3 separate regions of the Homo sapiens genome follow, and all the other regions are linked to region 3. The links come from fine-mapping of genetic effects on gene expression. A gene starts in region 3. Each other region holds a variant in brackets. All regions are shown on one strand. Distances are between the middles of the regions.

The links. PIP is the estimated chance that this variant, and not a neighbour inherited with it, causes the effect.
Region 1: its variant is fine-mapped to the expression of CTNNBIP1 in whole blood (INTERVAL, PIP above 0.99).
Region 2: its variant is fine-mapped to the expression of CTNNBIP1 in spleen (GTEx, PIP above 0.99).

Annotation. Positions count from the first base shown.
Region 1 is chr1:9,855,746-9,861,318 of GRCh38, reverse strand. All of the region lies in intron 5 of CTNNBIP1 (catenin beta interacting protein 1), which reads left to right. Among named protein-coding and RNA genes, the nearest start is that of CTNNBIP1-AS1, 10 kb to the right of the region's middle. RefSeq lists an enhancer at 782-1,676. The variant A/G (reference allele first, on the strand shown) is at 3,194.
Region 2 is chr1:9,873,637-9,879,209 of GRCh38, reverse strand. It overlaps CTNNBIP1 (catenin beta interacting protein 1), which reads left to right. Exons shown (of 6, transcript NM_020248.3): 3 at 1,221-1,305. Among named protein-coding and RNA genes, the nearest start is that of CTNNBIP1-AS1, 28 kb to the right of the region's middle. RefSeq lists a silencer at 4,055-4,254. The variant G/A (reference allele first, on the strand shown) is at 2,227.
Region 3 is chr1:9,908,085-9,913,657 of GRCh38, reverse strand. It overlaps CTNNBIP1 (catenin beta interacting protein 1), which reads left to right and starts at 3,389. Exons shown (of 6, transcript NM_020248.3): 1 at 3,389-3,563. RefSeq lists enhancers at 1,448-2,120, 2,121-2,794 and silencers at 2,942-3,541, 3,552-3,611, 3,782-3,841.

The DNA.
Region 1 (5,573 bases), 52 kb after region 3:
GTTTTGTCCCCTTCAGAAATGCTTCCCTTTGGAGGAGCGTCTGGGTCCTGCTTTTCCAGGTAGCCTTTCCCTAGAGCTGGTAGTTCAGCCACTGCAGTTTTGGATAGCCAGGTAGCAGATGCTAGTTGGTATTAATAGCAAGATTAATGAGCTCGTGGGAGGAGGAAAAGGTACCACAACCAAAAACCATATGGTCAGAGAAGAGGATGAGACACAGAGTGGGCGTTGTCCTGGACACTTGGGAGCATGTGGTCGCATTCCCTCTCCAGCCTGGTCTGCCATGTGTGTCAAGGATGGGCCCTGGGCTTGCCAGGTGGCATTCCCTGGACAGTTGTGAAGCACTTAGCCAAAGTTAGCTCCCTCTGCTGATGGTGACTCACAAAGGGAGCTCCCCGCATCAGCCATGAGAATTTGCAGACCCTGAAGATTTCAGGTCACATTTCTGAATTTTCACGCCCCACTTTTTTACCCTCTTTAGGAGGAGTAAGGCTCCTGAGGAGTTCAGGAGGCCTCCAGGTACCTGACCCCAGAATGTCTGACACCGTCCTGGGAAGTTCTGGCCAGCAAGGAAGAGGGGTGGTGAGGATTTCAGTGGTCTTGCAGGATGATGTGGCAGAAGCTCCCTGTCCCCAGGGCACATGGTTGTGGGGAGCTGGGCCTGGAAGAATCCTGATTCTTTTTTCTTTTTTTTTTTTTTTTTGAGAGATGAAGTCTTGCTCTGTTGCCCATGCCAGAATGCAGAATGCAGTGGTGTGATCTCGGCTCACTGCAACCTCCGCCTCCCAGGTTCAAGCGACTCTCCTGCCTCAGCTTCCCAAGTAGCTGGGACTACAGGCATATGCCACTACGCCCAGCTAAGTTTTGTTTTTTTTTTTTTTTTTTTTTTTTTTAGTAGAGACGGGGTTTCACCATGTTGGCCAGGCTGGTCTTGAACTCCTGACCTCAGGTGATCCACCCGCCTCAGCATCTTAAATTGCTGGGATTACAGGCATGAGCCACCACACCCGGCCTAGAATCCTGGTTCTGAATTGGGTGATGCGGGAGTGTCCATCTGTGACTGAAGTTCCCCTTTTTCTCCAGTGACATTGTACAGGGCTGTGCCCTGCCTGGTCTGTGGAGCCTGCAGGGCCTGCGGCCTTTGGGAGTTTAGCCAGGCTTTTTTGTACCCTCATCAATTTTGGAGGAAGGACTTGTGCTCAGGTCTGTTTTCTTTCTCCCTGGCCACCTCTGAGCACCTGTGCTGAGTTGGACTTTGCAGGATCCTGGATCTGGAGAAGTTCCCTGGGGTAAGAGGTCAGCTTGTCCCTCCCACACCCAGATGCTTTGGTGAAATGAAGCCAGGACCAAGCCCTCCTCTTTGCTGTGAAAGCAGACCCCACCATGTTGGATAGTCCAGGGAGGCACCCTGGAGGTGGGAACAGGGTCTACAGATCAGGGTCACAGGCCTTTGTCTGCTACATTTCACCCATGTGGCCTGGGACCAGCCTGTTTCCAAGTTTGCAAATTAGGAGCTAGTGCAGCACTAGGCTCCGCCAGGATTTCCCCAGCCAGGTCTGTGAAATGCCCTTGCTCTGTGGATTGGCCTTGGGGCTTTAGAATCTCCATGCTCCTCTCTTTCATCCACTATTGCTGACCCAGCTATAATCCTGCAGGGCCAATAGCAGCCTGCCCTGGCAGTTCAGGAAATGCATCGAGCTGCCCAGTATATTCAGGAAAGGACCTTTGAAAGACTTCAGCTTAAGAGTCTCAAATAGCAAGAGGGATTCTCAGCAGACTTTGGGAGTTGTCAGAGGCCCCCAGGAGGCTTTCTCCAAAAGCCTGAGTAAGCCAGGCCAGGCCTAGGGTGAGTGTTGGCGGGAGCAGAGCTGGTTCCAGCATGCTGGTGGGAGTTCATCCTGAGCTCCCATTGTCTCTCTCCCGCCCCCGGCTAGGGGCCAGCTTCCCTTTTCTAAGCTCCTGCATATTTGTCATTTTTTCTCCCCAGTCAATTGACTGGACTCCACTAAAGGGGCAAAGCTGGCATTGGGCATAGGATGGGAGGGCCTGCTGGATACCCTGTCCTGGTTTAGAAAGCTGCGCCTTTGCCAGTGTCCTGGCCCTGGTTTCCAGGGCAGGTGAGCCAGGGGACTAGTGAGGTGTCTGGTAGGGCAGTAGGCAGAGATAGGGAGCAGGGCTCAGGGGAGATAGGAGTGGGGACCAGTTGGGGGCAGGGGGCCAGGGCCAGGGCTGTTCCCAGGTTGGCACTCTGGGTTCCATGTTGAATTATCTCCAAGGTGTCCCTGGGCTGCTTTGGTGGTGTTTTTAAGCCCTGGTTCTTAGTTCCATTCTGATGGAACTAAGATGGAACTAAGATGCTAGGAGGCCAGTTGAGCCTTAGTGCTGTGGGTGACTGGAGAGGTCTGTGGTTTCCTTTCTCCTTCTAGGGTGAAGGCATGGGCTTTGGAGTCTGGATCTGGGTCTTCTCTCTGCCTCTGATTCACTGAGTTGCTTTGTCTGTCTGAGTTTCAGTTTCCTCATCTGTAAAGTAAAGATTCATCCTGTGTCCCAGGTACTTGCCCAGATACTGTGACTATGTCAGTGAACAAAACAAAGTCCCTGATGACATGAGATGTACGTTCCAGTGGAGAAAGGAAGGTCAGCTCAATATAGAGCTCTGTGGGTAGCACTGAGGGTGCTGAAGACCTCATTCACCTGAAGTATTGAGACACAAGGGCCATTTTAGAAGTTGTGTTCAGGGAGGGCCTCTATGAAGTGCAAGAACCATGGGATAAACTTGGAGAAGAACATCAAGGCAACAGAAGCGGCAGGTGCAAAGGCCCTGGGGTGTAAGGACTTGTGCTTGAAGGATGGCCAGGGGCCCATGTAGCTGGCGCAGTGAGTGGTGAGAGGTGTGTTGTAAAGGGAGGCGAAGTGGCAGTCAGAGACCAGCGTGTGTGGGTCCTGCAGGCCACAGTGAGGAGGTGGGCGTTGGCCTTGAGTATGATGAGCAGTCTTGCAGTAGAAGCTTCTGGAGGGTTTTGAGCAAAGGCATGGTAGGAGCTGACTTAGGTTTCTAACAACTTCCCCCTGGCAGTTATGTGGAGAATGGACCATCAGGGGCCAGCGAGAGGAGGTCAAGGCAAGCGGGGATTCAGGAGTCCACCCACCCCCGACCAGGGTGGTGGTGGCAGAAGTGGTGATGTACTTAGCATCT[A/G]CCTTATAAGTAGCGAAGTAGAGTCAATGGGATTTGCTGATGCATTGTGTGTGGAGTTTATGTATGACAGAGGGGTTGGGAAGACCCCAGGACTTCTGACCTGAGCAACAGGAGGATGGAGGTGCCATCAGCTGAGATGGGAAAGACTGTGGAGCAGGCTTGGCAGCTGCACCACCTGACACTCCCACCAGCAATGAATGGATGAGGGTTCCAATTGCTCCACAACCTGGCCAACACTTGTTCTCATCTGTCTTTTTGATTCTAGTAGATGTGAAATGGTTTATCATAGTTTTGGATTTTTGTTGTTGTTGTTGTTATTGTTTTTGAGACGGAATCTTGGTCTGTCGTCCATGCTGGAGTGCAATGGCGTGATCTCAGCTCACTGCAGCCTCCACCTCCTGGGTTCAAGAGATTCTCTTGCCTCAGCCTCCCCAGTAGCTGGGACTACAGGAGCGCACCACCACATCTGGCTAATGTTTGTATTTTTAGTAGATACGGGGTTTCACCACGTTGGATAGGCTGGTCTCAAACTCCTGACCTCAGGTGATCTGCCCGCCTCGGCCTCCCAAAGTGCAGACAAAGTGCAGAGATTACAGGCGTGAGCCACTGTGCCTGGCCTTTTTTTTTTTTTTTTTGAGACAGGGTCTCATTCTGTCACCCAGGCTGGAGTGCAGCGGTGCTATCTCAGCTCACTACAAGCTCTGCCTCCCGGGTTCACGCCATTCTCCTGCCTCAGCCTCCCGAGTACAACAGTCCCTCCCGGGACTACAGGCGCCCGCCACCACACCCGGCTAATTTTTTGTATTTTTAGTAAAGACAGGGTTTCACCGTGTTAGCCAGGATGGTCTTGATCTCCTGACCTTGTGATCTGCCCATCTTGGCCCCCCAAAGTGCTGGGATTACAGGCGTGAGCCACCGCGCCCAGCCACCCATTTTTTTAAATTGGGGTTTTCTCCACTTTTTTATTATTGAGGGTTTTTTTTGTTTTGTTTTGTTTTGTTTTTGAGATGGCATCTCACTCTGTCACCCGGGCTGGAGTGCAGTGGCGTGATCTTGGCTCACTGCAACCTCTGCCTCCCGGGTTCAAGCGATTCTCCTGCCTCAACCTCCCGAGTAGCTGGGACTACAGGTGCCCGCCACCACACCCTGCTAATTTTTTATTTTTAGTAGAGACTGGGTTTCACCATGTTGGCCAGACTGGTCTCGAACTCCTGACCTCAGGTGATCCCCCATCTCGGCCTCTCAAAATGCTGGAATTACAGGCGTGAGCCACTGCACCCAGCCTATTACTGAGTTTTAAGAGTTCTTTATGGACTAGGCATGGTAGCTCATGCCTTTAATCCCAACACTTTGGGAGGCTGAGGCAGGTGGATCACCCAAGGTCAGGAGTTTGAGACCCGCCTGGCCAACATGGTGAAACCCCGTCTCTACTAAAAATACAAAAATTAGCCGGGCATGGTGGCTGGCGACTGTAATCCCAGGTACTCTGGAGGCTGAGGCAGGAGAATCGCTTGAATGCGGGAGGCGGAGATTGTGGTGAGATTGAGATCACGCCACTGCACTCCAGCCTGGGCAACAGAGCGAGACTCCCTCTCAAAAAAAAAAAAAAAAAGAATTTTTTACGTATTTTGCGTAATAGTCCCTTACCAGATATATGATTTGTCAACATTTTCTTTCATTCTGTGTGTTGTCTTTTCACATTCTCGATGGTGTCTTTTGAAACAGAAAAGTTTTTAATCTTGATAAAGTTCTCTTTATTTATTTATTTTTTTCTGTTGCTTGTGCTTTAGATATCATAACTAAGAAACCATTTCCTGCCAGGCGTGGAGGCTCATTCCTGTAATCCCAGTACTTTACATGGCAGAGGCAAGAGGATGGCTTGAGCCCAGGAGTTCAAGACCAGCCTGGGCAACATAGGAAGATACCCCATCTGTCAAAACAATTTTTCTTTTATTTATTTATTTCTTATTTTTTTTTTGAGACAGAGTCTCACTCTGTCGCCCAGACTAGAATGCAGTGGTGCGATCTCAGCTCACTGCAACCTCCAGCTCCTGGGTTCAAACAATTCTCGTGCCTCAGCTTCCCGAGTAGCTGGGACTACAGGCATGTGCCACCACGCCCAGCTAACTTTTTGATATTTTTAGTAGAGATGGGGTTTCACCATGTTGATCAGGCTGGTCTCAAACTCCTGACTTCAAGTGATCTGCCCACCTTGGCCAAAAAAAAATTAATTAGCCGAGTGTAGCAGTGTGGGCCTGTGGTCCCAGCTCCTCAGGAGGCTGAGGTGAGAGAATCAATTGAGTCCAGAAGGTCAAGGCTGCTTTGAGTGCTGATTGTACCACTGCACTCTAGCCTGCGTGACAGAGCAAGACCCTGTCCA
Region 2 (5,573 bases), 34 kb after region 3:
CATTTTTTTTTTTGAGATGGAGTCTCACACTGTTCCCCAGGCTAGAGTGTAGTGGCGCGATGTCAGCTCACTGCAAACTCTGCCTCCCAGGTTCAACCGATTCTCCTGCCTCAGCCTCCCAAGTAGCTGGGATTACAGGCGCCCGCCACCACGTCCAGCTAATTTTTTGTATTTTTAGTAGATACAGGGTTTCACTATGTTGGCCAGGCTGGTCTCGAACGCCTGACCTTGTGATCCACCTGTCTCGGCCTCCCAAAGTGCTGGGATTACAGGTGTGAGCCACCGCGCCTGGCAAAATTACGCACCTTTTACAGAACGTGGTTGTCTACCGCATAATATATAACCACAGACCTGTGCCCTCACCATTTATTGGGATGATTGATACATGCCTTGGAGATGTGAGGTACTGGGTCTTGCACCCCAGCAGAGCAGGTGGTGCAGCTGGAGCGGGTGGGCAAGGCTCCCAGCGCCCCTCACAGCCTCCTGCTTCTCCTGTGTCTCCGCCCACTCGGCAATCCATGCTCTTGCTCCATTAACCTGTGCAGGTGACCTGAACGATGAGCTCCTGTGTAGGAGGCAGAAGAAAAGAAGGCAGTGTTCTGAGATTCCTGCCAGAGGTGTATTGGGGGCACGTAGACATGTGGCTAGGCTGTAGGTCTGTGAACAAGCTGCGACTGTGCTTTTCGTGTGTTTCTAGCATGTGTGTTAGTTGATGTTTAGGTGCACAACTGAAGCACACAGACACATATACATGCACTGAGCACAGAGGCTGCGGGGTGCTGAGCTACCTGTGCCTCACTTGTCATGTTAGATTTGGTAGGTGGGGCATTCTCTTGTGCAGGTGCAGAACTTGGCCATCAACTTTCCTGGAGTGATGCATTCTGGTCCACAGTGTCTCTGAACACAGCGTCTCAATTAGACTTGGTGACTAAGCCAAGGGGAGCAGGGGGTGTGGTGTTGAGCGGACTGACCTGCTTCGGCCGGAAATGCCAGGCCAGCTGAGCTGCCTTCAGCACCTTATTTATCCCAGAGGTGTGGGTGCAGGTTTCCTGGGCTTGCCAGACACACAGGTATTTCTGGACCACGGCAGAACCCAGCTCCATGAGCTTCCCGCCAGCGGTTGTGCATCCTCAGCATGGGGCGTGTGCTCCAGGCCCAGCCCTGGCAGCTGCCTGGGCCCTCCCGACTCCTCCCACAACCTGTGTTCTGTGTTTCTGCAGGGCGGCACCTTCCTACTTCTGCCCAGCCACAGCCCTCCCCTCACAGTTGAGCACCTGTTTGCCTGAAGTTAATTTCCAGAAGCAGGTAAGGCCCCCAGGGGAAGGACTCTGTAATGTGGCCATACAGTAGTGTGGGGTGGGGGGTGAGGAGTCCTATTGGACGCCAGGCTCCAGGGCTGATCATGAAGTTAGCTCATCTGTTACCTTTCACCGTGAGCCCCAATGATGCTCATTTCTCCAGATGTGTTGGGTCTTCTGGAGAATGTTAGGGTGCTGCTGATTTCTTTTAGGCTAAGACATGTACAGATTCTGGATAATATTTCATATAAGCTCTAGGAACCACCAATTCTATGGCATTGTATTTTTTTGCAATGTAAACATCATGAAAGTGTAAATTGTACATTTTTAAATGTATTAGAATCTATCACAATGTGTTTTAAAATGGACAAAACAAAAGACGAGTGCAGGGGCTGGAGGCAGCTCATGTGTCTGAAGGAGCAGCTTTGCTCCCTGGCCTCGCCTGAGCTTACTTGACATCTTCCTAGCAGGTGCAAGACCGCCCTGGGTATAAGTGAATATTCTAACATAGATAAATGTGGATGTTCAAGAGCATTAGCTTCCAGTTTAAAAATAAAAAGGAGTGCAGGTGGCTGTGTTTGTATTCAGGGCCACTCGTGCCTGTCAAAGCGAGGCCAGCTTTCAAAGCTCTTTATTAGAATGGGTTGCATTTCCCAGACAGAGACCCATACAGGGAGCCACAGCCGTCCAGCCTCCAACTGCCGCATGTGACTTTCAGCAGTCTTGTTCTCCAGGTCCCTCTTGCACTACCTCCTAATTCTTCTAAAGTGAGATCAACTGCTTAAATGCTGGAGATTACATGGTGGTCGAGATTAGGTCCCTGCAAAGGCTGGGAAGAAGTGTGGCATCTGAGCGTGCCTCTTACAGATGCCCTTGGGTGTTTCCCTGAGAACGTGTTGTGGCCTGTGGAGCCAAGGCCAGTTCTCCC[G/A]TTGTGTGGACCTTTCACAGTGGTCAGGAGCCACTTCCTCACCATCCTTTCCTGACCAGCCAAGCTTCCTTCAACAGAGAGGCAGCTCTGAACTGTGTGTGTGTGTGTGTGTGTGTGTGTGTGTGTGTGTGTGTGTGTATGTATAGCAGGAGTGTGTCTCTGTGTCTAAATTGAAGGTATGTACCTTAATGTCTTTTCATTGTATTTGCCCCAATCAGATGTCATTTTCTGGGATGGCACCCACTTTTTGCAGAATGTGTGGTTGCCTACTACATAATAAATAACCATGGACCTGTCCCTTCACCATTCATTTGGATAGTTAATAGTTGCCTGTTGTTTCTTTTCTGTTTTATTGTTTTTGTTTTTTGAAATGGAGTCTCACTCTGTCGCTCAGGTTGGAGTGCAGTGGCATGATCTTGGCTCCAGGCAACTGCCGCCTCCCAGGTCCAAGCGATTCTCCTGCCTCGGTCTCCGAGTAGCTGGGATTACAGGTGTCTGCCACCTCGCCCAGCTAATTTTTTGTATTTTTTATAGAGACTGGGTTTCACCATGTTGGCCAGGCTAGTCTCAAACTCTTAACCTCAGGTGATCTGCCCGCCTCGGCCTCCTAAAGTGCTGGGATTACAGGCATGAGCCACTGTGCCTGGCCTGTTTCTTTTCATTTTCCTTTTTTTGGCTTACCTCTGACTTGGGCAGCTAATAGAAATTTTCTTAGGATTTGGAGTGGAAGCGCCACCCCATTTTAGACGCTGGAATGTTTATGGGAATAGCCAAGAGACCATAATTGAGAACCATCATTACTTTTGGTTCTCACGTTCAAGGACTGGATGAATAATTAGTGTGTCTAATTTAGTTGCAGTTTTAGTTTATGTAATTTAAACATAGTTTAATGGAGACCAGTTTTTGATCCCTACAGGGGAAAATAAGATTTCTCAAGTGAAATGAATCTGATGCTTGTCAGAATTGTGATAAAAATATAATAGCACGTTTGCTTGTATAGGCAACAAACAGAGACATACTTTAATATACTCGTTGAGCACCATGACTGAAATGTCTGTATTGTTTGGGTTGATTATGATTTATTCTCTCCAATTATGAGTTTGCTCCACACTGACACCCTTACTGCAGAGGAGAGAATTATGTAAGCCAGTCACGGTGTTTCTGTTTGGGTTGGAATGGGAAGGGTGGGAACATGTGCTCCTGGCTGCATTTCTGCTCCAGATCCAGCCCTGAGTGTGCCCTCTTGTTAGGCAGCAGGGCGGAATCAGCTCAAACTAGAGCTGGAAGAATTCTCCATGACCACGCTTTTTAGAAAAGACAAGTCAAGGGTCTTCTCTGTAGCGAGAAGAACTGTCTCTTGCAGGGAAGTGAGTTGAAGCAGGAGTAGCCTGGCTCCAAAATGCAGGCGCAGACGACACCGCAGGCCCACAGCTGGGCAGCCCAAGCCCTAGGAATCCCAGTGTGAGGTGTCCCCGGGACGGCGAGGCTGCACCAGCCGGGAAGACGGGGCGGCACCTATCAGTGCGAGCTGTTCATAGAAGGCTTGTTGGACAGGGCAACATTCTGTAAAGCCGGCCCCATGGAGGCGGTCTGTGATGGAAGCAGTCTTTGATATGGAACTGACGCTCCTCTGGGAAGCACCTACTGTGTACCTGGACCACTGGCTCCTGGGTGGATGCGGCGGCAAAAACCAGACACCAGTCCTTCCCTGGGCAGGGGTGGCTCTCTGAATGAATAAATAGATCTTGCCCTGGGACCCGGGGCTGGAGTGTGGTTTGTGATAGTACGATTGGAATAGGGAGAGCCAGAGCAGGAGTGATCTGCTTCCCACGTCGGCTAAGGACTGGTCGGCTCGAACCGGGTGGTCTGGGGCCCTGGGAGAACCTGCTGGGGGTGGGGAGGAAGCAACGCTGGCGCTTTTGTGTTTGGCGACACCTAGTGGCCAGGTCCTTGTATTTCACCCTGTCTCTCACCAGGAGAGAGCAAATGAAAACTAGCCCTTAGGCACAGGACAGAATTGGAAGGTTTTTACTCTTGGAAGCCCTAACTCCCAGCTCAAAGGCTTTACGGAGCATTTCAGATGTTCTTTGGAGAACACAATAGCCCAAGGCCCACTACTTTGAAAGTGTGAGTCCTTTGGAAAAGCTAAATTTGGTTATGGGAGACTGGGTTAGGTACTTGGTCTCTTAACACAATGACATTTGGGCCTAGATGGGTGTGGATATTGCAGAGTGGGAGAAGCTCAGACACCACAGGCTGTTTCACTATTCCATTTAGCCAAGCGGGCAGTATTTATTAAGTGCCTGCCAAGTGCTAGTCTCCCGGAGGACAGGGGTGAGCACAGCAGAGGGGGCCCTGGCCTTGGCAGTGGGCAGTGGGCAGAGACAATAAGCAAGTTCTCCAACAGGGCACTTTCAGAAAATCAGGACAGGCGGGCATGGTGGCTCATGCCTGTTAATTCCAATATTTTGGGAGACCAAGGCAGGAGGATTGCTTGAGACCAGGAATTTGAGACCAACCTGGCTGTGCAACATAACAAGACCTCTACAAAAAAATTTAAAAGTGGCAGGGTGTTGTGGCATGCTTCTGTGGTCCCAGCTAGTTAGGAGGCTGAGGCAGGAGGATCGCTTAAGCCCAGGAGTTCAGGGCTGCAGTGAGTTCTGATCATACCACTGTACTCCTGGGCACCAGAGCAACTGCCAGGGAAGGCTTCCCTAGGAAGGTGCCTTTACACCAAGACAAAGGATGGAAAGAAGCCAGTTCCTGGCTTAGGGGACACCCAGTACAAAGGCTGCCAGAGGGAAAGAGCTTCTCCGCATGTTCTAGAACGGACGAGTGCCAGGAAGGCAGAGCAAGGGGAAGAGGAAGAAGAGACAGGCTGGAGAGGGAGGCAGGGCTGACAGCGGAGCCCTGGCAGGGTCTTGGCAAGGATTATGAGATGCATTCTCAGGTAGGTTTAAGGTAGGAGTGATATCATCTGTTTTGGGGAGGATGAGGTGGGAGGATCACTTGAGCCCAGGAGTTTGAGACCAGCCTGGGCAACATAGCAAGACCCTGTCTCTACAAAAAAATGTTTTTAAATTAGCCAAGCGTGGTGATGTGCACCTGTGGCCCTAGCTTACTCAGGAGGCTGAGTTGGGAGGATTGCTAAAGCCCAGCAGGTTGAGGCAGCAGTGAGCTATGATCGCGCCACTACACTCCAGCCTGGGCGACAGAGGGAGACCCTGTGTCAAAAAATAATCAATAATAAGATCATTCTGGCTATTGTGTAGAGAAAAGGACAAGAAAGGAAGTAGGGGGATCATGAGGAGGTTACATAGTAACCCAGATCCAGGTGGCCACTGGGG
Region 3 (5,573 bases):
GTAGAGAACAGTTTTTTGGCTGGGCACGGTGGCTCACGCCTATAATCCCAGCACTTTGGGAGGCTGAGACCGGGTGGATCACTTGAGATCAGGAGTTTGACACCAGCCTGGCCAATATGGTGAAACCCTGTCTCTACTAAAAATACAAAAATTAGCTGGGCGTGGTGGCGCATGCCTGTAATCCCAGCTACTAGGAAGGCTGAGGCAGGAGAATCACTTGAACACAGGAGGCGGAGGCTGCAGTGAGCCAAGATCACACCACTGCAGTCTAGCCTGGGCGACAATGAGACTTCATCTCAAAAAAAAGAAAGAAAAAAAAGAGAAAAAAAATAGTGTTTTTTTTCTTTTTTTGCTCCAGAAAGCAACTATTTAAAGATACATAATAGGCCAGCATGGTGGCTCACAGCTGTAGTCCCAGCACTTTGGGAGGCTGAGGCCAACAGATCACTTGAGGTCAGGAGTTCGAGACCAGCCTGGCCAACATGGTGAAGCCCCGTCTCTACTAAAAATACAAAAAATTAGCTGGGCATGGTGGCGGGTGCCTGTAATCCCAGCTACTCAGGAGGCTGAGCAGGAGAATCACTTGAATCCAGGAGGTGGAGGTTTCAGTGAGCCAAGATTGCACCACTGTGCTCCAGCCTGGGCAACAGACTGAGACCCCATCTCAAAAAAAAGAAAAAAAAGATACCTAATATATGTTCTGGGACCACACGGAGGCCCTCTCCAGAGCTGAAAGGAGAAAATATCGAACCATAAATGCAGTGAGAGAAGAGTAAGGAGGAGAAGGCTGATAGCCCTGGGGGTCGGAGGCGGGGAGTAGGAGTGGCTGGCCGGCCGATGGAAGGGAAAGTCCTGGATGGAGTATTTACACATTCAGTTTGTTCCTGCAGTAATATTTGTGGATACAGGTATTGTGCTTGGTGGCATGGTCCTTGCCCTCCTGGAGTTTATAGCCATGCTGTGGGACTAGGGCTAGCATCCATTAAGAGGTCTCCCGGAAGTAGACCAAGTATTCAGGCAGGTGAAGTGGGGAGAAATCGGAAAAGAGCCATTGAGGCCAAGGGAACAGCGCAATCAGAAGACCTGAAGCACAAAAGAGCTCCCTGTGATCAAGGAACAGGCACAAGGCCCATATGTGGCTAGAGCCCAGTTGGCAAAAGTGGTTCAAGATCAGGCTGTAGCCAGATCCTGTAAGGCCTTGTTGCCACACTAAGGACTTTGAACTTCCTCGTGAAAATGAAGAGAAGTCGTTGAATAGCGCAGGTCTGACAAGATTTTAAGAAGTTTCCTTTAGTTGCTGTGTGGGCAGTGAATGGGGGCGTAAGGAGAGCCTAAAGGAGAGACTGCTTGAAGGGTTATTGCAGGAGTCAAGGTGATAGCTGGTGGCAGGTTAAACTGGGAAAGAGGGGTAGAGATGGTAGGAGGTGGAGAGATTAAGGACACCATTTAGAATTGGAAACAACATGGACTGGAAATGAAGAATAAAGGAAAGAGTGGTGTCAACGGTACAATTTAAGTGTCTGGTGTAAGCAACTGGGTAGAGAGTGGTGCCAGTTACTGAAGGTGGGGACACTGTAGGAGAAACCCACTTGGGGACCAATTTTTTTTTTTTTTTTTTTTTCAGACAGAGTTTCGCTCTTGTTGCCCAGGCTGGAGTGCAATGGCGCAATCTCGGCTCACTGCACCCTCGCCTCCCGGGTTCAAGCGATTTTCCTGCCTCAGTCTCCTGAGTAGCTGGGATTACAGGCATGCGCCACCACGCCCGGCTAATTTTTGTATTTTTAGTAGAGACGGGGTTTCTTCATGTTGGTCAGGCTGGTCTCCAACTCCCGACCTCAGGTGATCTGTCTGCCTTGGCCTCCCAAAGTGCTGAGATTACAGGCATGAGCCACTGCGCCCGGCCGGGGACCTATTAAGTATGAAAAAGTGTGAGCAGGCCGGGTGCGGTGTCTCAGGCCTGTAATCCTAGCATTTTGGGAGGCCGAGGCGGGCAGACCACTTGGGGTCAGAAGTTGGAGACCAGCCTGGCCAACATAGAGAAAACCCGTCTCTACTAAAAATACAAAAATTAGCCGGGGCGCATGCCGGTAATCCCATCTACTCAGGAGGCTGAGGCAGGAGAATCGCTTGAACCCGGGAAGCGGAGGTTGCGGTGAGCCAAGATCGCGCCACTGCACCTGAGCCTGGGCGACAGAGCGAGACTCCCTCTCAAAAACAAAAAAACCCCCCAAATGAGTAAAGAGTAATGTGGATATTATATTATAAACGAACAAACAAAAAAGGACTTCGTATTCTTTTTGCATAGGGAAGGGGAAGAAATGTGGAGTGGAAGAGGATGGTACAGAAAAGGTGTAAAAAGAAAGGCTGTGGGAGGAGTAGGGTAGGAGGGCTTCTGAACTGGGGTTAGTGTCACACTGTGTAACTGATAATTTAAACTGCTGAAAATGAGACCACACTTAAAGATACAGGTCCCTTTAAAAGGAAGGCGGATGTTAAAAGCAATTTGCATTTTACCTAAAATGGGCTGCTTCTCCCTGTACCCTCTCCAAATACAGCCAGACTTTCTGTAGAAACATTTTAATCATGGGCACCCTTCCCCCGAAAAATCCACTCACTACCAGTACACACGACCTTCTGAGTTTAATGGACCTACGGAGGCCCATCCCTGGGCTCTCTGGGCTAGGTTAATCCCAGGTTAGGCCCCAAGCTCAGAGGTAGCAACGTTCCCAGCTCAACGACGCAGGAAGACCACGCCTCTAAATGTTCTGCAACCTCGTCCATTTCAGAATTTTCCGGGGTTCTGGGTAAACTGGCCTCACCAAGGATTCTGCCCCGTCTTGTTGCTCCCGTTTTTAAACACAGACCGGTGTGTGGGAGAGGCCATTATTTTTCCGGAACACTGTGCTCCTGGAGCAGATAGGGACACGCAGAGTGGCTTTACCGCAGCGCCAGCTTCAGCCTTACCCGGCTCCTCCTCCAGGCCACCGCCTCCTCCTCGCGCCCAACCCGCCTTCCCTGCTCACCCCCGGCCCGCTCCTCCCCTTTGCTCTCAGCGCGGACTCGGCCACTCACTACCGGCGCCGTGTTCCACCCGCCCACCGCATGGCCCCGTCCCTATGTCGCTGGTCTCGCCCCCTTCCAGGAGGGCCCAATGAGCGTTCACATGCGCCACAAGGCCCCGCCCCGCACCGCGCAGCCCCGCCCACAGGCTGAGTTAACCAATTCGCGGCCCCGGGCCCCGCCCCGCCCGCAGGCCCCGCCCCGGCGCCCGGCCCCACGCGCCCGCCTCCCTCCGGGGCGTTGCCGCCGCCGCGCCTCAGCAGCCCGCGCGGAGCCAGATGCCGCCCCCTCCGCCGGTCCCTCCCCCGGCGGCCTGGCGCCTCCCTCCCTCCCCACCGCGGTGACTCTCGGAGCGGGAGGCGGAGGCTGAGGCGGCCGCTCCTGCTGCTGCTACTGCCGCCGCCGCAGCGGCTGCTCGGGCTGAGCACGCCCCGGAACAGGCCGCCGCGCGCTGCGCGCCGGACCCGCTGCCCCTGCCGGCCCGGCCGGGTCGGGCGGCCCAGGTAAGCGCCGAGGCCGGGCCGCGCCTGCACCGCCCGGGCCCGCGCCGCGCCGCGCCGGGGCTTGGGGGAGCGGCCAGCCCTTTGTCTGCCGGGGAGGGGCCGCGGAGAGCGCCCCCGACCCCGCTCGGACCCCTGACTGCCCCAGCGGCGCGGCGCCCTGGTCTGGGCCTGGCCGCCTCTCGCCGCAGACCACCTCCCGCCTCCCTGACTCTTCGCCCGGGGGTCGCCTCCACAGGTGTCCGCGCCGCCCACCTTGTTGCTCACCTCACCGCGTCCGGGTGCCTGTCATCGCCCGTCCGCCCTCCCGACCTCTGGGCCCCTGCCTCTTCCCTCACCTGCGCCCACTCTGAGACTCTTACTCTCCATATTTCCCCAAACTAAACGCTGGGCCGCCCTTCCTCCCTCTGTAGTTTGATTGAACTGTCGTCTCCCGATTCCACCCCTCCCCGGTGAGCCTTCCTGGAAGGTACCTGGTGGGGGCACATATCTCACCTGGATGGCGGGCGTGTATGCACGAACCTGCAAAATTAACCACCTGGAGCCCCAAACTGCACCTCTCACCTCCTTTTCATCACCCCACCCCAACCACCTTCCTTTTTTTGGAACCTGGTAACCGAGACACTCAGGTCTGGACACCCAGCCTCTGCTAGGCCCTCCATCCCTCCCTCTGCCTTGTGAGCTGAACTTGTCTGAGCAGTGCCTGTTGTCAGGTTAGCCCCTGGGAAGGCGGCGGGGGCCGTGTTGGCCGCAAATCAAGAGTTTTATGAATAATGAGACGTGTGGCTTGCACCACCTCCTGTCTGAGGATCTCAGTATGCTCCAGCTGTGAATTATTTTGTCTCCTGTCACTCACAGAACTGAGAGGAACATGTCTGGCCAACTGCTGGGTAAATTGAGGTACAGGGTGTGTGGGTAAGGGACCTGGAGGCAAGTCATGGTTTGTCTTGAAGTTCTGTTCGCAGGAGCCTTGGCTCTTAGCTCCCTGCTACAACCACTGGGCTCCAGTTCCTGGAGTGTGTCCCCAAGTGATAACTGATCTCTTGTGCCATTAAAATGTCCAGAGATACCAGCAGCTTCCTCAGATTTAAAGTAGGACTTTGGATCATAAATAAAGGTGCGGGCTGTTAAATGCCAATGTGTCATTCACGGTTTGCTGGGGGAGTTCGTGGTCCTCCCTTGTAAATACAAATCACCTCTATGGGATGGAGATTCATTCATTCAGTAGTGAGCATTTACTATGTGCCAGGCACCGTTCCAAGTACTGGGGCTTTAGTGGTGAAGACAGACACGGTTTCTGCCCTCCTCAGAGATGACATTTTAAAGAGGAGGAAAGTCAGACAATAAGTGAGTAAACAAACAAGTGGACAAAATAATTTCAGTAGTGGTAAGTGCTATGAAGATGGAGAGGGGCCAGATTACATATAAGAATCTGTGGCCGGGCGCGGTGGCTCACGCTTGTAGTCCCAGCACTTTGGGAGGCCGAGGCGGGCGGATCACGAGGTTAGGAGATCGAGACCACGGTGAAACCCCATATCTACTACAAATACAAAAAATTAGCTGGGCGTGGTGGTGGGCACCTGTAGTCCCAGCTACTCGGAGAGGCTGAGGCAGGAGAATGGCGTGAACCCGGGAGGTGGAACTTGCAGTGAGCCGAGGTCACGCCACTGCACTCCAGTCTGGGCGACAGAGCGAGACTCCGTCTCAAAAAAAAAAAAAAAAAAAAAGAATCTGTGGATCAGGGCGGACTCAGTGGTTCATGCCTGTAATCCCAGCACTTTGGGAGGCCAAGGCGGGCAGATCACGAGGTCAGGAGTTCGAGACCATCCTGACCAACATGGTGAAACCCTGTCTCTACTAAAAATACAAAAATTAGCTGAGCGTGGTGGTGCATGCCTGTAGTCCCAGCTACTTGGGAGGCTGAGGCAGGAGAATTTCCTGAACCTGGGAGGCGGAGGTTGCGGTGAGCCGAGATTGCGCCACTGCACTCCAGCCTGGGCAACAGAGCAAAAC